2 separate regions of the Homo sapiens genome follow, and region 2 is linked to region 1. Evidence: fine-mapped expression QTL. A gene starts in region 1. The other region holds a variant in brackets. All regions are shown on one strand. Distances are between the middles of the regions.

Region 1 (5,376 bases):
ACGAGGTTGTAGAGAGGATTAATGCTAATATAGGGTTTACTATAGCCTGGTACATAGTAGGTGTTTTGCAAATAAGGATAATAGCTATTATTATTATTGATTCAATGCTGCTTAGATTTAGGTACAGGTGCCCATGTGGCACTTTTATCTAAGTTAGATCGAGATTCTTCATTAAACTTGAAAGCAAATATTAAATGCTCTTAAATATTTGGAACATGCTTATGTCCAGAGGGGCTTTCCCATTACAAGGGAAGATTATAGGAATCTCAGGAGCTTCTTGGTTCTCTACTCTTGGGAGTGTGGCTTGTGAAGTTTGGTGGCGAAAATAGTGGCAACAATGGTGTTGTCTGGAAGAAGCCTTGCCATTCAGCCAGATGTGCCAAAAATCATGTGGCAACTCAGTGGGATCAATTCCTGCAGTCCAAGAGGTGCCCATATTTGCTGTCATTGCTCTTCCTTGGGTTTAAAACACACTACCCAATGACATCCAAATCTACGTATTTAGTACATTTGTCCTCTGGGTAAGAATAAATTATGAACCTACTGCCTATTCTTGAAAGAGAAAAGACAAAAAAGGGTACTATGCTTTTGATCTGAAAACTAATGTCTTTAATCTACCTAAATCATTGCTAGTTAAATACCATTTTCTGGTGAATCACATTTATCTGCTGTAGAGTATAAGTTCTCCAGATTAAGATCTTGTCTTTTCATAGGGTGTATAAAATAATGCACACAGCTTTAGCACTCCTGGTATAACAGATGGCTATCATTTGTAACAAAAGAATAACATTGGAAGCCTTCTGACATGTCCTAGAAGCTTGGTGTGCAAGAAGAATCCCATTACATACATATTGTAATCCCATTACAACATGTTGTAAAGGTATATTCCCCATAGGGAAAGCCCAATAACTAATTCCTTCAAATCTAGAAAACAGACGACTGAGAGTTAATTTTTTTTTTTTTTTGAGATGGAGCTTCACTCTTGTTGCCCAGGCTGGAGTGCAATGGCACAATCTTGGCACACTGCAACCTCTGTCCCCCAGATTCAAGCCATTCTCCTGTCTCAGCCTCCCGAGTAGCTGGAATTACAGGTGCCTGTCACCATGCCCGGCTTTTATTTATTTATTTATTTATTTATTTATTTATTTATTTATTTATTTTGTTATTTTTAGTAGAGACAGGGTTTCACCATGTTGGCCAGGCTGACCTCTAACTCCTGACCTCAGGTGATCCACCTGCCTCAGCCTCCCAAAGTGCTGACATTACAGGCATGAGCCACCGTGCCTGGCCAAGAGTTAATTCTAATTGCATAAAAATTCTTTGCTTTACAAAATAACATTTTTTAAAAAATTTTTTATTTTTTGCTAAAGAGTCTCTTGAAATAGCCAGATCTCTTTTTGGAGAATCCAAAATTGGATTTGCTTTACAAAATGTTTATTAGACTCAACTTTTCAGGAGCAAAGCGAGTGTGAAAAAATGGGACATTGCCTGTCAGGCATCAATGGTAAAGTGTCACTTAGTCACAGCGTAAAAAATAAATAAATAAATAAAAAGGCTCACCATTCCATCCCCTAAGCCCACCAAAGTCAAATTGTCCAAATGTGGCAGGTGGCTATTGCAGGCATCTGGTGCTCTCATTCCAGTCAGGAAGGTGAGGCTAGCATTGGGGTGGGGGCGGGGGGCAGACATCAGTAACTGTATGACCCTAAACACAGAGTCCGAAGAAGGGACCCCCAGATTACAGACAGCCTTTCCTCCACATATCAGACCCTCTTTCTTTACAAATACAGCAAATACAAGCAGATAACTGGGCATCAGTCATTTCTGATGCATTGCAGGAAAGAGCAACAACATACACTGTATCATTCAATTTATCAAGTAAACTACAGGCACTGTGCTAGACTCAAAGATAGAAAAGAAGACAGGGAGCAAAGAAGAAAACGCACGTTTAGTAAGACACCTGAGTGCCTTCAAAGACCATGCAATGTCTTTAGGTACTGTTCCCAGCTAGCTTCTCCAACAGAAAAATGAGCATACTCCATTTCAAAGCTGGATTCTGTAACCAAATGCACTATTCATATTTTTCCAAGGCTCCTAAACCAATAGTTAACTAGTCTCTTCCAAGATTTAGGGAGGCTGTTGAATTCTTTTCTGGAAGTTCTATGTATTTTGCTAAAAGTTGTGCTCCAAACACTTTACCAAGAATTAGGGTCAATGAAGGGGTACTTTGTGCAAGCTACAAATACTTGGAATTTTCATAAGGCAGTTCATTTCTGCCTTCCTGTGAATAATTTCATATTTCTTCCTTGTAAGACTAGGGTTTGTGTGCTCATGAGTGTCTAGATTGTCAGAATAGAAGGAGTGTTTAATACATTGAGTGGGTCTGGGGCCTGGAGATGAAGATGTGAGGGATGCAAGAAGGAGGATCTTGAATCAGATGGAGCGAAAGATAACTTGGAAACTCCAGTGGAGAAAAATGGCTAATTTGGATTGTTTAATTTGTTCAGGTTTGTGTTTTGGGTTCTGTCACACTTATGTTGAGAAACGTCCCTGCCATCTCTCTAATGCACGCAGTTTATGTTCAGAAACGGGCAGCACAGAGAGGAATTAGCGGTGGGGGAAATTTTCATCACCACCGGTGATGTGTGCACCGATGGTAGATGGCTATCCAGAGTGTAAAAATGTGATTCTGGGACCAAAGGGTCAGCTCTAGAACGAAATCAGACAGCTGGAGAACTGAAGATTCAACTCTTCCTAGGCAAGAGAGTGAGAAAGGTGGGTTGCTTGCAGGGTGGAGGTAGGGGTTGCTCCTCCTAGTTCCTGGGCTGGAGAAGGGCAGGGAACTGGGAAGTGTGTGTCAGAGGCTCGCTATGCTAGGACAAGGTGTTGGGGTACTAGGGTGGGTGGGGGCCTGAGGGGTGGCTTGGAGCCCTGGCGGTGGCTGCCTGACGTCACCGGCCTCTCTGGCAATAGGCTGCGAGCTCAGCTCCCTGAAGCGGCGGCGAAGGCGGCGGCGGCGGCGGCGGCGGCGGCAGCAGCGCGGCTCGGTCTCTGGTCCATTCACTCCACGCTTTCTGCAGCCGCCACTGCAGCCGCGCGGCGGGGGCTCCCTCCTTGCAGCCAGCCGGCGGTCCAGGTAAGAGACAAGGTGTGAGTAAAGGCTTCTGATGGCCGGGTGGCCTGACGGCCAGGTGCGAGTGGGGAGGACAGCTCACGCGGCCTGAGCAGCCACCCCTGGCCATAGCTCCAGCCCCCGCCCCTGCCCCCGGCCCCTGCCCTGGCTTGCTTGCGCGCTACCTCGCTACTCCGCAGTGCAACAGTTTGCAGCTGCCTCTTGGGAGCAGCAAGGAGGCTCTCCTGTGCGCTGCGGGTCTACCGGCTCCAGTATGCCGGAAAAGCCTCGGGGCCTTTGGGCTGGGTCTGGGAAGGACAGAAAGAAGGTCCCGTTCCCCAAACTTTGCAGGCGGGAACCCTCCCCTTTCCATTCCAGCTCCTCTAGAAAGAAGCAGGCTACTGCCAAGTTGGGGGCACAGGGAAATGGGGAGGAGGGGGCCGTTTGTGGGAATGTGTCAGCTGAGAAAGATGCTTCAGCTGCTTTTTTTTTTTTTTTTTTTTTTTTTTGGAGAGGGGAGAATACCAGGGAAGAAGGCTGGAGAAGAGATGGAGCGCGTTCCTGCGCGTCAGCCGCGGTCGCGGACAGAGGCAGAGTGGGATGTGGTGCCAGGGGTATCCCCCTGGGAATGGGACCCAAGGGATCTGACGCTGTCCAGGGAGGGCGAGTCTGGACGGGGAGGGAAAGGAAGGGAGGACTGCGTACCCGGAGCCCGCGCGGCGGCCCGGAGTGGGTGCTGGGAAGGGTAGGATCCAGGCGAAGACATCAACCGAGAGGGCGCAGAAAAGAGGAGAGCCGGCGCTCTGGGAAGTAGGGACTTCAACCAAAGCGGCTGCGTGTCTGTTGCAATTATAAAGTTGTGAAGGGCGGAAGGGAGGCTGCCTTATCTGCTGAGTAATCTGCACCTCCGCGGTGCCGGCGCAGACCCCATCCTGTCGAGTGGCATGAGCAGGCTGCTGGTGGCTCTGGTGCACGGCCACGGGCCGGCAGGCTGGGGTCCGCTGACCGAAAATACAGGCAGCGCCCAGCTCAGGCAGTGTGCCCAGAGGGCCGCTTTGCGGTGGTGGTTGATCTTTCCCGACAGCACTCCCCTGGGCAGCGGCCGAGATTCTAACTAAGCTTTGTGTCTTTGCAGCCTGGTGCCTCTGCAAAGGAAAGGGGAGCGTGGAGACGTGTTCGAGGTGGTATCGGCGAGGATCTCTCGGGCGCCGCTCACTCCTTGGTCGCCTTGCTTGCCAGCAGTTGCTCCCTTAGTCCTTGGCTCGCTCGCACACCCCCTCCCGCTACAGGGAGCAGTTTTGGGTGGCGTGGGCTCCGTCCTCTTCTTGGCTGGTAGGAACGGTGTGCCCAAGAGGGGAAGCCTAGTGGGCCTGGCCCCTCCCAGCCCCGCGCCAATGAGTGCCAGGGCGCCGAAGGAGCTGAGGCTGGCGTTGCCGCCGTGTCTCCTCAACCGGACCTTTGCTTCCCCCAACGCCAGCGGCAGCGGCAACACGGGTGCCCGCGGCCCAGGCGCAGTAGGCAGCGGCACCTGCATCACGCAGGTGGGACAGCAGCTCTTCCAGTCCTTCTCCTCCACGCTGGTGCTGATTGTCCTGGTTACCCTCATCTTCTGCCTCATCGTGCTGTCCCTCTCCACTTTCCACATCCACAAGCGTAGGATGAAGAAGCGGAAGATGCAGAGGGCTCAGGAGGAATATGAGCGGGATCACTGCAGCGGCAGCCGCGGTGGCGGGGGGCTGCCCCGACCTGGCAGGCAGGCCCCAACCCACGCAAAGGAAACCCGGCTGGAGAGGCAGCCCCGGGACTCTCCCTTCTGCGCCCCTTCCAACGCCTCGTCGTTGTCCTCTTCGTCCCCTGGCCTCCCGTGCCAGGGTCCCTGTGCTCCTCCGCCTCCACCGCCAGCCTCCAGTCCCCAAGGAGCACACGCAGCTTCCTCCTGTTTGGACACAGCTGGCGAGGGCCTTTTGCAAACGGTGGTACTGTCCTGATCGTCTAGCCCCTCTCGTTCCCCGTCCTCGTTTCCAGCATCTTTGCCACCCTTGCTTTTTTCCTTCTTCCTTCCTTTTCCATTTTCCTCTGGCCCCTCTTTCCTCTTCCTGGTTTCCTTACCTGCCCTCCCCTTACTCTTGTTTCTCCTCCGCCGAGGCACTGTGCGGTATTTGTAAATATTGGGCGAGGAAAGTCTCGGAAGAAGAAATAACGCTGATAATAATACTTTATTAATATTTATAGTAATTATTATAATACTAATAACACAATCCAAG
Region 2 (5,376 bases), 38 kb before region 1:
CAGCATCATTACACTTTTTTAATACTTTTAATTAATCTGATTTTTATTAGAGCAGGATGCCAAGTTTTAGCCTCTAGAAAATAGCAATTGTATTTTTTGAAAGATGGAACAAATTCTTCAATTTATCTGATTCATCATTAGGAATTTGTGAATTTCTTTTCTGAAGTATTTTCCACAATTGTAATAAGAGGGATTGTCATGAAATAATTTGTCTGGGGAAAGACATTTTATCTAATTTTTCAATTATCACCCATTTCTCTGAAGAAGAGCCCTGTCTCTGAGAAAATGGGGGCACAGGGGCAGCCTAATTTGATAAAGAAAATGAGGTAGTGGCAGCATAAAGTTGCTTCATCATAGGTCATGTGATTGGAGGATCTGTGGTGTTGGGGAGCAAGAAAGGGTCCTGCTGTATTAGTCCCTTCTCACACTGCTATAAAGATACTACCTGAGACTGGGTAATTTATGAACAAAAGAGGTTTAATTGATTCACAGTTCCACATGGGTGGAGAGGCCTCAGGAAACTTACAATCATGGTGGAAGGCAAAGGCGCAGCAAGGCACATCTTACATAGTGGCAGGAGAGAGAGAGAGAGGGGAAGCAGCAGACCCCTATCAAACAGCCAGCTCTTGTGAGAACTCACTCCAGAACATCATGGAGGAAACCGCCCCTGTGATCCAATCACCTCCCACCAGATCCCTCCCTCCACATGTGGGGATTACAATTCGAGATGAGATTTGGGTGGGGACCACAGAGCCAAACCATATTGTTCCATCCTGGCCCCTCCCAAATCTCATGTCCTTCTCACATTTCAAAATGCAATCATGCCTTCCCAACAGCTCCCCAAAGTCTCGACTCATTCCAGCATTAACACAAAAGTCCAAGTCCAAAGTCTCATTTCAGACAAGGCAAGTTCCTTCTGCCTATGAGTCTGTAAAATCAAAAACAAGTTAGTTACTTCCAAGATACAATGGGGGTACAGGCATTGGGTAAATGTTCCCATTCCAAATGGGAGAAACAGGCCAAAACAAAGGGGCCACAGACCCCATGCAAGTCCAAAACCCAGTGGGGCAGTCGTTAAATATTAAAGCTCTGAAATGATCTCCTTTGACTCCATGACTTACATCCAGGGCACGATGATGCAAGGGGTGGGCTTCCATGGTCTTGGGCACCTGGCAACTAGGGTGTAAGACAACATATATAAAAAGAAAAGAGTTTCAAACCCACTTCATGACATCAAAGGCCAGTTCTGTTTGTGAAAGACTCATACATCTCCAGTATTTCCTACCCAGAAATTTGTAGATGAATATTGGTTTTATAATTTCTGCAGCTTTCCATTAATAAAAGGTCATTCCTTTTTGTTCTTTTCTTCTTTGGCCAAAGAGGGAGAGACTGTAAAACACTGACACTGACTAGGCTGCAGGCAGCATTCTGATTCTTGGTTTACCAGGGGTTCTGATCTTGGAGAAGCCAAGGTGACATCTTAGGCAGACAACAGATAATACACTAAGAGAAGAGAACTTAGAAGCCTCATGTTGCATGTTGGGTTGACAGATGGGGTTTGGGATGGGAGGGAATAGTTCTTCAGTGCAATCAGCAAAGGTGCCCAGGGCATGAGCTTGGGAGAATCTGACAGAAATGAACAACTGTGTTTCGATCAACCATCTGGAAGCATGGCCTAATGTCAAGCCAGGGCCAGGTGGAGGATGCGGGCCAGTGATCTGCAGCTGGACTTAGAGAAGAGCGACTGGATTCCCATGGAATGGCAGCAGTGGGGGATGCTAGAGTAAGCCCTCAGTTTGGTAACAGCCTAGGCAGCAGCTTGATGTGCAGCCTCTGTCCTGGGTAAGATGGCCTCACTGCCCAGGTCTCCTCTTGGTGCCTCCATCTGTCTCTCAGCTCTGCCTTGCCTTGGGCAACTATTCCGTCCTGGTTCTTTTCTGCCTGGCTACTGGGTCTCTAATGCAGTACTTTTCCCTGCTCCTCAGTTTGCTTGTATGCCTATATCCCTGATAAAAGTGTATGAATTATTCAACTAGTCTTTTCCTGCCTTCCCACCCACTTTATCCCCTTCTAGAGCTGCTAGTAATCCCAGAACGAATGGGGTCCTAGTAGGGGAAGACATATCCCAAGGGCATCATCATCTTATTATTATTAGGCAAGAATGCAAATATATACAACAGGTAAACCAGCTTTATTTCTGCAAGATGACACTGAATTCAGCTAGGCAGCTCCTCAATTTGGCTAGAGTTGAGGGGGAGCATGAGTTGGAAATAAATCAAACCAGTTGGCTTAGATTGACTGGTCATTTCAGCCCAAATGCTTGATCACTTTGCACTGAGTAGACAGGTTTAGAGAGCTTCCAAAACACAGTTCCCATAGCAACTATACAAAGAAGAAATGGCAATAAGAAGCAGTGCATGTGGAATTTATTTTATCTTTTCTTGCCTGACTTCCTTTTGTCCCATCTCATATTCCCTTAGGCGCTGGCCATCTGGGTATGTTCTTTTTTTCTTAGCAGTTTTCCCCAGGAAAGAACTGTGTTTAAAATGCCCTTTCTTACCTACCTCTGACTGACAGAATGAGATTGTCATTTGCAATTGTGAACTGGAGCCTTTTGTGTCTCTAATGAAATCCTGACTCAAACTGTCCCTGTCCTTCTTGCTTGAACTTCACTGGTTACATTTGCTATAGGATTAGGGAGTTCATTGCAAAAGGGATTAAGATTTTTGCTCTGGGACCTGTTTTGGTGATTTCTTTC[T/A]GTAAGGGAACACATCATTTGGCACATAGCAGCTCCTGTAGCTCTGAAAACCTCAAAAATCGAGCCTTGAAGTCTCATTCCACTACTTCCTGCCACCCTTCTTATCACTAACAAGTAGATGATTCAGAACAGTCTATGTTTTGGCAATTTACAGACTGATGTTTAATTCAGCCTCCTTTATTGATCTCTATCTTGATTCAAATGTCCATCTTCTGAACCTTGAAAAATATCTTCATTAGAATTATACTGAGCTTCCTTTTTAAAATAAACACATAACACAACAGAACAGGATGTCTCACCCAAAATTCATTTCATTATGTCTAAAACAATTTATTTCTTCTCATTTTTGAAATCTCTTTCCCTAAGAATTCCCTCTGTTTTCTGTTTCTAATACATGTGTAAAGAGGTTTGCTTGAAGTTGCTTGTTTATCCCCAAATCACAAAAGCAGTTGCAGACTTTCTTAACCATTTCTCTGAGGTTACATGTCAGATTTCCTTAGATTTATATTCAAAGTCTTCTAGAGGTTTATCCCAACTTACCTTTGCAGTTTATACCAAAACAAAAAAGATGTAAAAATCTTTGGCTTCTGTCAAAATGGTCTGTTCACTGGGCCCCCAAGGCACCTTGCCATTTCCAGCTACCTACCTAGCTTTGCTCATGCCATTCCTTTTACCTGGGATAACATCTGTCTTCTTTTAAGCAATTAAAAATTTTCTTTCCCACTCTCTACTTCAATTTCTATCTCTTTTTAAAGCCAATTTTGATCATAAACACACACACTTATTATTACATGCTCCTTGTTTTGGTGTTGGTATTGGCGTGTAATTGCTGTATGAGAAACTGCTGAAAGATCAGTGGCTTAAACAAGCATTCTTAAGCTTAAGCGTCCACAGTTCAATAGTGATTGATTCAACTGATTTAGGATGGGCTCATCTGGGCAGCTCTGCTGCATGCTAAGAGTTAACTGAGATTGGCTCCAGATGAGAAGTTGGGCTCAAATCTGCCCCATGCATGTTTATTTGGGGGCCCAGGTTAAAGGGGCAGTGATTACCTGGGGTATCTTCTCTTGGCAGACCACTGAGTGTGAAAAAAACCAAGCCAAACACACAAATACTCTTAAGGCTTCTGCTCAAATCACATTCACTTTAAGACCAGAGCAAGTTATGTGGCCAAGCCCGAGATCAGCTGGGCATAGAAGTCTACTCTTCCCACAGTGGGAGGAGAAGAATATTTGCTGACCAAGAATGCAAACTCTCATGGAATTCTTCATGTATTGCAATATCCCATTCCCATGTAGATATGCTGCATCCACCTGAATGGATAAGCTTCTGCTTGAAAAGTAGAACTATACTTTATCATTGTGCTCTCCACCCCTAGCACTTATGCCAATGACAGACAGATAGCTGGACCCAAATTAATATTGGTTTATCTGTTATTTTCACAGCATATTTTGGAGCAGTTTTAAGTTCACAGCAAAATTGCGAGGAAAGTACCGAGATTCCCCATAGTCTGTGCCCCCACATTTGTAGCTCCTCCCATTATCAACATCCCCCACCACAGTGGTACGTTTCTTATAACTGCTGGACCTACATTGACACATCATTATAATCCAAACACATAGTTTACATTAGGATTCACACTTAGTGTCGTACATTCTATGGGTTTTTTGACAAATGTTTAATGACATGTATCCACCGTTGTAGTATCAGAGTATTTTCACCACCCTAAATTCCCTGTGCTCTGCCTGTTCATCCTTCTTTATCCATTAGCCACTGGCAACCACTGATCTTTTCATTGCTCTGTAGTTTTGTCTTTTCTGGAATGTCATATAGTTGGAACTATACAGTATATAACCTTTTCAGATCGGCTTCTTTCACTTCGTAATATGCATTTAAGATTCCCTTCATGTCTTTTCATGGCTTGATAGCTCACTCCTTTATAGCACTGAATAATATTCCATTGTCTGGATGTACCACAGTTTATCCATTCACCTGCTGAAGGACATCTCAGTTTCTTCCAAGTTTTAGCAATTATAAATAAAGCTGCTATAAACATTTGTGTGCAGGCTTTTGCATAGACATAAGCCTTCACTTCTTTTGGGTAAATACCAAGGAGCACAATTTCTGGATTGTATGGTAAGAGTATGTTTACTTTTATAAGAAACTGCCAAACTGCCCTCCAAAGTGGCTGTACCATTTTGCATCCCTGACGGCAATGAATGAGATTTCATTGCTCCACATTCTCACCAGCATTTAGTGTTTTCAGTATTCTGGATTTTGGCCATTCTAATAAGTGTAAGGTAATATTTCACTGTTGTTTTGATTTGCATTTCCTTGATAACATGATGTGGAGCATCTTTTCACGTTTGTCACTTGCGGCGTATTATTTTCACCCTTACTATATACCAACAGATAACCCAGCATTAGGTTCCAAGGATGGTCTGGATGAGAGTAGTTCCAAGGGATGCCATCAGTTTGGAGTAAACAATGACTATTTCCACATTCCCAGCCATTTTAAGGCCTATGTAGTGGCACCACTAGGTAGCTGTGGTTAATGAAGATGGACAGGTAAAGGTATCTTTATTTAAATTGTACACTACTGGGTCAGTTTGGAAAAC

Which allele goes with the higher level. Alleles are on the strand shown, and positions count from the first base shown. SD is a standard deviation of normalised expression in the study named.
For the expression in gastroesophageal junction of the gene that starts at base 3,063 in region 1, allele A in region 2 goes with a higher level than allele T (moderate effect, 0.69 SD a copy in GTEx).

The links. PIP is the estimated chance that this variant, and not a neighbour inherited with it, causes the effect. A credible set is the group of variants that fine-mapping cannot tell apart.
Region 2: its variant is the best candidate, but not a certain one, in a credible set for the expression of C11orf87 in gastroesophageal junction (GTEx, PIP 0.59).

Annotation. Positions count from the first base shown.
Region 1 is chr11:109,419,128-109,424,503 of GRCh38, forward strand. It overlaps C11orf87 (chromosome 11 open reading frame 87), which reads left to right and starts at 3,063. Exons shown (of 2, transcript NM_207645.4): 1 at 3,063-3,136; 2 at 4,248-5,376. The coding sequence starts at 4,507. The coding sequence ends at 5,100.
Region 2 is chr11:109,381,095-109,386,470 of GRCh38, forward strand. No RefSeq gene overlaps it. Among named protein-coding and RNA genes, the nearest start is that of C11orf87, 38 kb to the right of the region's middle. The variant T/A (reference allele first, on the strand shown) is at 2,759.